Linked DNA regions of Homo sapiens: region 2 is linked to region 1. The links come from fine-mapping of genetic effects on gene expression. A gene starts in region 1. The other region holds a variant in brackets. All regions are shown on one strand. Distances are from middle to middle. Region 1 holds the start of DTWD2 (DTW motif tRNA-uridine aminocarboxypropyltransferase 2). Region 2 overlaps DTWD2 (DTW motif tRNA-uridine aminocarboxypropyltransferase 2).

The links. PIP is the estimated chance that this variant, and not a neighbour inherited with it, causes the effect. A credible set is the group of variants that fine-mapping cannot tell apart.
Region 2: its variant is the best candidate, but not a certain one, in a credible set for the expression of DTWD2 in fibroblasts (GTEx, PIP 0.64).

The regions. Positions count from the first base shown.
Region 1 is chr5:118,985,092-118,990,475 of GRCh38, forward strand. It overlaps DTWD2 (DTW motif tRNA-uridine aminocarboxypropyltransferase 2), which reads right to left and starts at 3,456. Exons shown (of 6, transcript NM_173666.4): 1 at 3,203-3,456. The coding sequence starts at 3,420. RefSeq lists a silencer at 3,040-3,369.
Region 2 is chr5:118,962,251-118,967,634 of GRCh38, forward strand. All of the region lies in intron 1 of DTWD2 (DTW motif tRNA-uridine aminocarboxypropyltransferase 2), which reads right to left. Among named protein-coding and RNA genes, the nearest start is that of MIR1244-2, 9.6 kb to the right of the region's middle. The variant T/C (reference allele first, on the strand shown) is at 2,923.

The DNA of each region.
Region 1 (5,384 bases):
GCAACCACCACTAATCTCTGCAGCCTCGTCTCTCACCACTCCCTCCCTTCTCCCAAACTCCCCAAATACACTATATATTCTATACACTAAACTCTCGTACATACTGTTTCCTCAACCAGAGCTCACTTTTTCCTCCCTCAAGCCCTCTCCTCAGCCAGTCTCTTCCCTAATTAATCCTAAATATTAGAATCCAGATTAAATATTTCGTTATGTCCTTCAGTCTCAGCTTACATGTCACTTCCAAGATTTCCCAGATCTTTTCCTCATCTCCACCATACAAACTTAGGGTTAGGAGCACCTTTTTATATGTTCCTATAACACCTTACATATACCCATCTAAGAAAGAAGCTGATAGTATAGAATTCAACAAGAAAAAGACCACATGCTTATGTGCATTTTTATATATATATATATATATATATATATACACACACATATATACATACATATACACACGTATATTACACTTTATTTCCTAACAAAATTAAAGACTCTAGTAAAATCTCAGAAGCACTACTTGGTGAACATGCATCCTTTTGCCTTCTGACTCTTACTCCACGACGGCCTAATTTCGAAGACTGCCAAAGGATATCAAACACATATAAAAAGTGTTTAAATCTTTCCACTCTGATGTCATATAATTTAAATAAGAATGTTTAAATTAGCAAGATGATTTTAACTTGAACAAAGTTATTTTACAAATACTTTTACTTTGAAAAGTTCAGAAAACACTTTTTGCTGTTTTCTTCAGAGCTTCAAAAATTTGATGCGGTTCATTACCTATAATTTGAAAAAACTGCCCTACATCATAGGATTTTTAATCTGAGGGCTCCCCATTTAAATAGATATGCCACTTTCCACTAGATCCTGATATTCAGGAGAACTGAAGTCATCTCTTTTTCATCTTTGTATTTCATAGCCTATCACACCGTCTGGAAGAAGGGTCTCCAAAAATATTTGTTGAACAACTGAATTTTACCAAGTAGTTCAACAAATCTTTTGTGCACCTACCATGTCCCATGACCCTCAGCCTTCTTATGTTATCTCAAATAATGCTAATGATACATACTCTGGGGAGATCAGCCAAGGTTTTGTCTTTATCTGAAAAAAAAAATTATATACGTTTGGGAATGGGGGATAGGAAAGGTATTCTAAGAGGTAAATGGAATACAGGCAGGTTTTGTAAACAAGACATACATAAAGGACAGAATACATTTATAGAATCTATATCTTGCAATAATAAATTACAAGTTTGGGATCTTTTAAAGAATATTCCATTCATATTTAAGATATGTTATATTTATAATGAGCAAGATTCTGCTGAAAAGTTAAACTGAGTTTGCACTTCCTGAACAAAGCTAATTTCTGGAACTCCCCTAGGCTGTGACATTTGTAGTAATGTGTTCAGAGAAATGAATACAGTTTAAGTAAATAGCCAAATAACTGTGACTCAATGATCAATCAAATCTAAGAATGCATTTTTAAAACTATTTTAACCATAAATGTAAAGAAGTTCACCCAGGGTACTAGTAGAACTCTAATAGCATAATGAAATAAAATATAAAAAGCCATCAATTCATTTATATTTTATTGACAACACCTAAATATTCTCCATAATTCTAGAATTATATTCTACCTAGTTAAAGCAAATAAAATGCATAGCAAGAGGGAGGAGAGCTTTTCACAGGTAGCAAATTTCACAAGAAATAAGCAAAGTGTAGAATTATAGTCTACCTAATTAAAGCAAATAAAATGCATAGCAAGAGGGAGGAGAGCTTTTCACAGGTAGCAAATTTCACCAGAAATAAGCAAAGTGCAGAAATGTTGGGGAAAATTGTAATCCTAAGGTATTAACTAAACGTAACTGAAAAAAAGATTAAATTCAGCAAGCCATTTTTTTAAAAAAGCATCATAAAATAAATCTCTGCTAAACAGATTTTTACCTATATATTTATAATTAACAATTCTGAACAGACTAAAAACTAAATAAAACTAGCACAGTAATTTAGCCTTTGATTTATATTTGAAACACTTTTCCTCCAGTATCCTATTGAGACCCCTCCAAACATTTTTAAATGCTTCCCCAACCCCCTCAGACGACTTGTTTAAATTAATTGTATTCACAAACCCCTATGTTCAAATTCACAGTCCCTTCTAATCACAAATTTTCCATCCTCCTCAGAGGTTTACTGAGCGTCAACTATACATAGTACATTTAGAAAATATAAAAACATTCTACATTCAAGATCCTTTCCTCTGAAGTCTTACAATCCAGCCCTAGGAAAAGGTCAAAATGTCCAAAGTGTGATACTCCAAGTATTCAAGCAGTAAAGATCTTCAACCATATTCAGTCCTTCTGTTCCCCTTCTTGGAATGCTTTTCCCCTGGCTGGATTCTTCTCATCTTTCAAATCTCAGAGATAGTTCATGACACCATTGAGCTATTTTCTACAGTAGCAACCCATTCCTTTCCTTCACTGCTTTTTTCCCAGTTTGTAATTACATATTTGATTGCTTGTTTGCTGGTTTATTATCCGTATCCAGTAAGAGAATACTCTACAAAAACATGAACTCCACTGCATTGTCAGTGATTACCAAAGCACTCAATAAACACCTGATAAATTAATGCACAGGTCTGGTGTTCCGAAGAAAGGTCTGAGCTAGACACACTGGGATATAGATGATAATTTACCATGAAAACTGATTTTATAAATTACCAGTGGGACGTATGTAGGGTTTGAAGAGAACCTAGAATGAACACCTGAAAAGGCCCTATATTTAGAGTTCTGGTAGGATAGGTAAAGGAGACTGTCTCTCTCCTCCAATCCACTTTATGCTTTTTAACTGTGATATAACTATGCCACTTAAATATGACTGTGTAACTATTTTACAAGTATTACTGTCATCACCCCTTACTTCCCCTATTGGACGCTTAAGTTTCTTGGAAACAGAACTGATGTCTGCTCATCCCATGATACGCTCAGCATATTGCAGGAAGTAAGGTTAGATAATCATGAACCTGGAAAAAGGGCTTCTTACTAGGTAGCTGTGCCTGGCATTTCCGAGATTTCCAACGTGCACCCGCCAACTCCGCCGCCCTAATCGCAGAGCTGCCCGAGCCGCCGACTCCCCGGCAGGGGGCGCCGCACCCTCCTCCGAAGGCCGCTGCCGGCTGCAGTCCCCGCCCCCAGCCCCGCGGTCACCTGCAGCGGGTGCACTCAGGCCTCCGCTCGGCCGGCTCCACCGGCAGCTCCCACAGCCCGTCCGCACTGTCGTCGTCCGCCTCTGCGCCCAGGGCAGCCGCCGCCGGCACTGCGCCGCCCTCCCGCCGCTCCTTGTCGTTCGGCGTCTGAGAGCTTGAGGCCCCAGAAGGCCGCGCAACGGGCTCCTGGAGTGTTCGTGCCTCTTTCTGCGACTCCATGGCGGACACTCCGGTCAGGCCGTGGCATTGAAGCCCGGCTGCCGCCGGGGGGCGCCACGCGCTGTAGAAACCGGCCCGCGCCGCGTAGCGCAATGCCCGCACGCCACGTACGGGGGGCGGGTCTCCGAAGCCCAGGCTGGAGGTCCCACCCTGCCGCTGGGAAGGAACGAGCCCATTGGTCCGTGCCCAGTGGGACCGTTCACCTAGAACTGGGTAGGCAAGTGTGGGCAGTGTTGGAGTGCTGGTGAGGTTAAGTAGCGTCATTGGGAGAGGTAAGGGAAACCTCCCCGAGAGGACCCCAGTACCAAGCCCGAATTTAACTCCTTTAAAAGTTAAAATAAAATGGAATTCTGCATTTTCCGCCTTGGGATGGCAGTTTAAGAATTTGCAGGATTTCCACGCGTGCATGCATCGCAGGTGCGGCAGCTGATGCACTTATTATTTAAAGGCCAACAAAGGAGAGGTTATATCCACTGGGAACTACTCACAGCTGGTCCGTTTCCTTATGTGAATTTCCTGCTCTTCTATGTCTTGTGCTAATAAGACATCAAGCATGCTATTTTACACTGGACACCAGATATTTGTTAAATTAGATTTTTAGATCGTCCCCGATCAGGAAGCAATAGGAGAGCTGGCCCGGGGTACCAATAGGTTTTATGTATGAGGAAACAAGCCCTAGAAAGGTAACGTTGCCCAGGTATTTAACAACTACTGGATACGGCGGTATATAGCACAGCAGCTGTTTTTTAAAAGCCAAAATGAAATCTATGTTAGAATGAAGGCAGAAATACTATTTACCCAAAATGGGTATCGAATTCCTTTTGTTTATTAATGCTTTGTGTTACTTCCAGCAATACACAACATTAAAACAGAATTAAGCTTGGTTTTGATCAATCATGTGAATTAAGCTTAGGAATCACAGTTGTCTTAACTCTATAGTTGTAATAGATTAAATGTGAGGCAAAGTAGACAACACAGTAATAGAGCAAATACTGTATTTCTTAAAATGTTTATTTCACATTAGATTTTTCAGTCATCTTAAAATCAAGTTTGTGAATAAAATACCGTGCTGTTTTCAACTATCCTACGTTCTTTCCCCCCGGAAACAGCACCTCTCTTTTCCTTTGGAGCGTCCTATGTGAGGGATAGAAAAAGGCTGAAACACCCACCTGGTGATGGACGTAGAGTGGGAGAAAGAACTAGCAATTATGCCATTTGGAATCGGAGGATAAACAAAATCCAGAAACTGTAGGAAAGGAGATGAATCAGAAAATTCATCTTGTCTGTAGATTTAGGTTGGGGAACCAATTCTTTAACTGCCAAAATTAAATTCTCATGTGACTTATCTTTAAACGAAAGGAAGCTGCTCATCTTTAATTTCAAGAGGTGAAATGTGCTCAAGTCCTCTAAGGTCCCTTGAGACTCCCAATTGTGTGGTGTGAGAAGACAGATGATAAGGAAAAAAAAAAAAACTTTTTATCTAAGGAATGCGAGCAGTCATGTCTCACTCTCCCTTGAGCTAAATAATTACCTCTTGAAGGCACTTGCTATGCAGGCCCTAGACTGACACCGAGTAGCCATAAAACGCCGTATACCCTATAGTTCAACAATATGTATAGCCAATCACTAACCAATGTTATTTCTGTAAATAAATGACACTTCCTGAGACATAGCTTTTGTAATGCCCCCCTCTGCTGATTCGTTCTCTTTTCTTTAAAAACTCCAGCCCATTTTGTTCTCCAGAGCACTCTCCACAGCAACCTGGAAGTACGACCTAGGCTACAGTCCTCAACGTTGGCCCAAATAAACTCTCTATATTAATTTTGCCTCTGCTCCTTCCTTTTAGGTTGATGTGAGCCTACTTACTTGGGGCTTCCTTTTAACACCCCATATCAGATTATTGGCTTTACCCTTCAAAGTATTCAAAATCCAAACATTTATCTCACCTACTACTTCTGCCCTGG
Region 2 (5,384 bases), 23 kb before region 1:
AATTATTTGCTATAAATTAGAGAAAATACATTAAGATTTAGGTTAGTATTACATTACTATATAAGAGAATACAATAGTGCTACAAATAAGCCACTGATTTTGATGCCTTTCCCCTAAAAAAGTGGTTTTCATCAATGCAACACCTATATACAGCTAAGAATTGAGTACAACTGAAAGTACCAGAATGACAAAATTCCCATCACGAGGCAATTTATTTATGGTGACCTGCCGCATTAACACATGAAAAATTATTAATTTGCCGATAACTTCTGAATCCAAAAAAAAATCCTAAAAGAAGCTGGATATTAGCAAAACAGACTAATTTCATAAACAGTAATGATATTTCATGGAGAAGAAAAAGGAAGTGGGATTAGGGAGTAAAAATAAAAGAGGGAATGAAAAGGAGAAGGGAGAGGAAAAGAAGGGACAGGTAAAGACAAAGAATTTAACATTTATTGCACACTTTTATGTTTTAGGCACTATGCTAAATACTTTAATTCTCACAAAACCTGTCAGCAGGAGGTAGTATTTTTAGCCTAACTTAAAGATGATGAAACTAAGGCTTAGAGAGGTTAAGTAACTTTTTCAAGAGAAAACAGAGCTGGGGCTAGAGCTTGGTTCTGTCTGATTCCAAAATGCATGCCTTTAATCAACACATTTGACTGAGTCCACATAAGCAGTTAATGTTCAATGAAAAGTCTTAACACATAGTTCTATCCAGCTGTCCTAGAACCCAGAAGACCTAGCACTAGAATTAAAACATTTAGAGATAAATAAACAAACGTGAGGGTCTAAAGAGGATCCAGAAGCAAAAGATCAAAGCCAAGATATTCATAAAATTCCTCAGTATAAAATGGCTAAAAAGTAATTAAGGATATGTGGTTAAAGATACCGTAAGAAATACGAAGAGGCTGACCCACAGGAAGCTAACAATATAGTAGAGAAAAAAGACAAAGTGAGGAGTTAGAAGAAGAAACTATTCAAACTTGGGAGATAGCTAGAAGGATAAGAAATGGTTTCATGCAAGACATGGAACTTGAGCTGGACCTTGAAATAGAGTATGATTGCAGAAAGCACAGATGAGGGAGGAGCTTTTCACAGAGACAGAATAACAGAACAAAGGCATGGAGCCAAACATTAAAAAGCACCTGTTTTGGGGGAGCAGTTCAGTGTAGCTGGAGAAAGGGGTGTATGGAGGAGGAAGAGATGAGTGGACAGGCTGAGGACTGACCTGCAGGACTTGGATGTTACACAAAAGATTCTGAACTCCCTTCTTTACCTAAAATATAAGCATTGAAGTTCTCCAGGAAAGGAATAAAATGAGCAGACAGACATGTTAAAAATATAAAGAACTTCATTAAAAGGGAATTGAACAGATGACAAAATGGAGTTTAGAAAACTACTTCAATTAGCACAGGACTGAAAAAATTCATTGCCGAGTGATGGCACAGAGAGAAGCCAGGTACTAAAGAGTAGTTTAAATACCACCTCCCCTGTAAAGTTCCAAGCAGGGGTCCCTCCCACCTCTGCACTCCTAAATCACACTATTCATGTTATATTACAATTATTGGCTTACCTGTGTTTCTTCCCTTAAAGATCCTTATGGTAACAACCAACCTTCATTCATTTTAATACCCCCAGTACCTAACTTGGTGAAAGAAGATATAAGCATTTGCAGGCCAGGTGCAGTGCTTCACACCTGTAATCCCAGTACTTTGGGAGGCCGAGGCGTGTGGACCACTTGAGGTCAGGTGTTCAAGACCAGCCTGGCCAACATGGTAAAACCTCATCTCTATTAAAAATACAAAAATTAGCCAGGCGTGGTGGCTCACGCTTGTAATTCCAGCTACTTGGGAGGCTGAGGCAGGAGAATCACTTGAACTCAGAAGGTGGAGTTGCGGTGGTTGCAGTGAGCCGAGATTGCACCACTACACTCCAACCTGAGCAACAGAGCAAGACTCCATCTCAAAAAAAAAAAAAAAAAAATTTGCAGAATGAAACATCTCAGATGTGTTTACTCATTAATGAGATATGACTTCAGGATGAGATTGGTTCCAAATTATACTTCATATAAGGCACCAAGTTGTGGTCATTTGGTGGCTGAAAGAGATGCCAGGGGAAAATTCCTCTACTTTGCCCTCTCCCTCTCCCTCTCCTTCTCCCCACGGTCTCCCTCTCCCTCTCCCTCTCCCCACAGTCTCTGTCTCCCTCTCTATCCACGGTCTCCCTCTGATGCCGAGCCGAAGCTGGACTGTACTGCCGCCATCTCTGCTCACTGCAACCTCCCTGCCTGATGCTCCTGCCTCAGCCTGCCGAATGCCTGCGATTGCAGGCGCGTGCCGCCACGCCTGACTGGTTTTCGTATTTTTTTGGTGGAGACGGGGTTTCGCTGTGTTGGCCGGGCTGGTCTCCAGCTCCTAACCACGAATGATCTGCCAGCCTCGGCCTCCCGAGGTGCCAGGACTGCAGATGGAGTCTCGTTCACTCAGTGCTCAATGTTGCCCAGGCTGGAGTGCAGTGGCGTGATCTCGGCTCGCTACAACCTCCACCTCCCAGCCGCCTGCCTTGGCCTCCCAAAGTGCCGAGATTGCAGCCTCTGCCCGGCCACCACCCCGTCTGGGAAGTGAGGAGCATCTCTGCCTGGCCGCCCATCGTCTGGGATGTGAGGAGCCCCTCTGCCCGGCTGCCCAGTCTGGGAAGTGAGGAGCGCCTCTTCCCGGCCGCCATCCCATCTACGAAGTGAGGAGCATCTCTGCCCGGCCGCCCATCGTCTGAGATGTGGGGAGCACCTCTGCCCCGCCGCCCCGTCTGGGATGTGAGGAGCACCACTGCCCGGCCGCAACCCCGTCTGGGAGGTGAGGAGCGTCTCTGCCCAGCTGCCCCGTCTGAGAAGTAAGGAGCCCCTCCGCCCGGCAGCTGCCC[T/C]GTCTGAGAAGTGAGGAGCCCCTCCGCCCAGCAGCCGCCCCATCTGGGAAGTGAGGAGCATCTCCGCCCGACAGCCGCCCCGTCCGGGAGGTGGGGGGCAGCCCCCGCCCGGCCAGCCTCCCCGTCCGGGAGGTGGGGGGCGTCTCCGCTCAGCCGCCACCCCGTCCGGGAGGTGAGGGGCGCCTCTGCCCGGCCGCCCCTTCTGGGAAGTGAGGAGCCCCTCTGCCCGGCCGCCACCCCGTCTGGGAGGTGTATCCAACAGCTCACTGAGAACGGGCCATGATGATGATGCGGTTTTGTCGAATACAAAAGGGGGAAATGTGGGGAAAAGATAGAGAAATCAGATTGTTGCTGTGTCTGTGTAGAAAGAAGTAGACATAGGAGACTCCATTTTGTTCTGTACTAAGAAAAATTCTTCTGCCTTGGGATGCTGTTGGGGTATGGTGTAAGATCTATGACCTTACCCCCAACCCGGTGCTCTCTGAAACATGTGCTGTGTCCACTCAGGGTTAAATGGATTAAGGGCGGTGCAAGATGTGCTTTGTTAAACAGATGCCTGAAGGCAGCATGCTCGTTAAGAGTCATCACCACTCCCTAATCTCAAGTGCCCAGGGATACAAACATTGCGGAAGGCCCCAGGGTCCTCTGCCTAGGAAAACCAGAAACCTTTGTTCACTTGTTTGTCTGCTGACCTTCCCTCCACTGTTGTCCTGTGACCCTGCCAAATCCCCCTCTGCGAGAAACACCCAAGAATGATCAATAAAAAAAATAAATAAAAATAAATAAATAAATAAAAGAAAAAGAAAAAAAAAAAGAGATGCCAGGAAGAAGTATCTCTTAATTCCTTGTTTTTCACTTGCCACTGGGCATTATGCACATACCACTATTTCTCTTGAGAAACTCATAAAGATATCAGCTACGGTTTGGGTGCAGTCATGCATTGCCTAGAAAAAAACCCTGCCCAGAAAAATACCTTAATACTATCAAAATCCCACAATTTCTCCTAACATCTGTATTAGTTTCCTAGATGTACAGTGGGATTTGGCCGTTTATCATTCTGGCAAATTTACAAAAGTAAACCTCAAAAAATATGATAAAATGTTCAAGTTTAAAAAAGCATTGAACAGTTATCTGGTATATGTGGGTGCGCAGTGGTTGTCATAAAGGGTTATGAGGAATTTCTGTATGTTTCATTTATTTCTGTAAAGTGTGACTTTTTCTTCTGAGTATACACCTCTTTTGTGTTCAGAAAAAATATATATTTTTAAGAAGCATTGAATATCTGTCACCTCAAAGTTACTCCAACAATCTGTGGTTTTTAGATCTTTGCAACAGAAAAGATGTTTAATATTTTCTTATGATCATACTCAGGCAAATTAGTTGATGATATGCTATAATGCCAGTCTTATATCTTTAGTACATTACATAAGGCAAAGTAAACTATAGAAGGAAAAGTTGATAGGAATGATACCTAAGTTAATTAAACTGATAAAAGTTATCACTATCAAAATCCATCTCCTAGTATGTTGCTTTCCCTAACAGTTCTCCATAATTACAAATTAAAAGTCAATCAGAGGCCAGGCACAGTGGCTCACACCTGTAATCCCAGCACTTTGAGAGGCTGAGGTGTGAGGATCACCTGAGGTCAGGAGTGCGAGAACAGCCTGACCAATGTGGTGAAACCCCGTCTCTATTAAAAATACAAAAATTAGCCAGGCACGGTGGCAGGTGCCTGTAAGTCCCAGCTACTTGGGAGGCTAAAGCAGGAGAATCTCTTGAACCTGGGAGGTAGAGGTTGCAGTGAGCCAAGATTACGCCACTGCACTCCAGCAGAGCAACAGAGGGGGACTCCATCTCAAAAAAAAAAAAAGACAATCAGTAACTCAAAAAAAAAAAAAGTCAAATAGTAACAGAAGTATGGGTTCGCAATTCCAAAACAACTGTATGTGTAGATTAGGGTTGAACAAATAATCAAACATGTTGCAGATAAAGAGAGTCAGATTTCTTACTGTCAAAGAAATAAACTACAATTAGAGAAGGGAGGAAGACTAGAATGAACTCTGTGGTATTGGATGAAACTCATGGTTTCTTTACATAAGTGTAGGTGTACATATAGATTTAGAAATAGATATAGGTATATGCATGGGTTAGTATATACACAGAAATCCTAGATCTGTCCACTAATAAGATAAACATCTCAGTAGCAATAAGCACACCAAGCACCCGGATCTTGGTTTTGAATATCATTTTACAATAAACCAGGGCTTCCTGAAAAAGTGGTTGATTCTAGGGCTGGGGCAGGGAAAATATAAGATAAGCCTGGATCATCTTACAGTGTCAGAAAGTAAGAAAGTTCTCAAAAAAGGATAAGCCTGTCAAAAGGTTCCAGGAACCAACCTGAAAGAGTTCTCAATGACCCAGGAGGGAACAATTTGAGCAATAAAAGAAATAAAAATAGTATT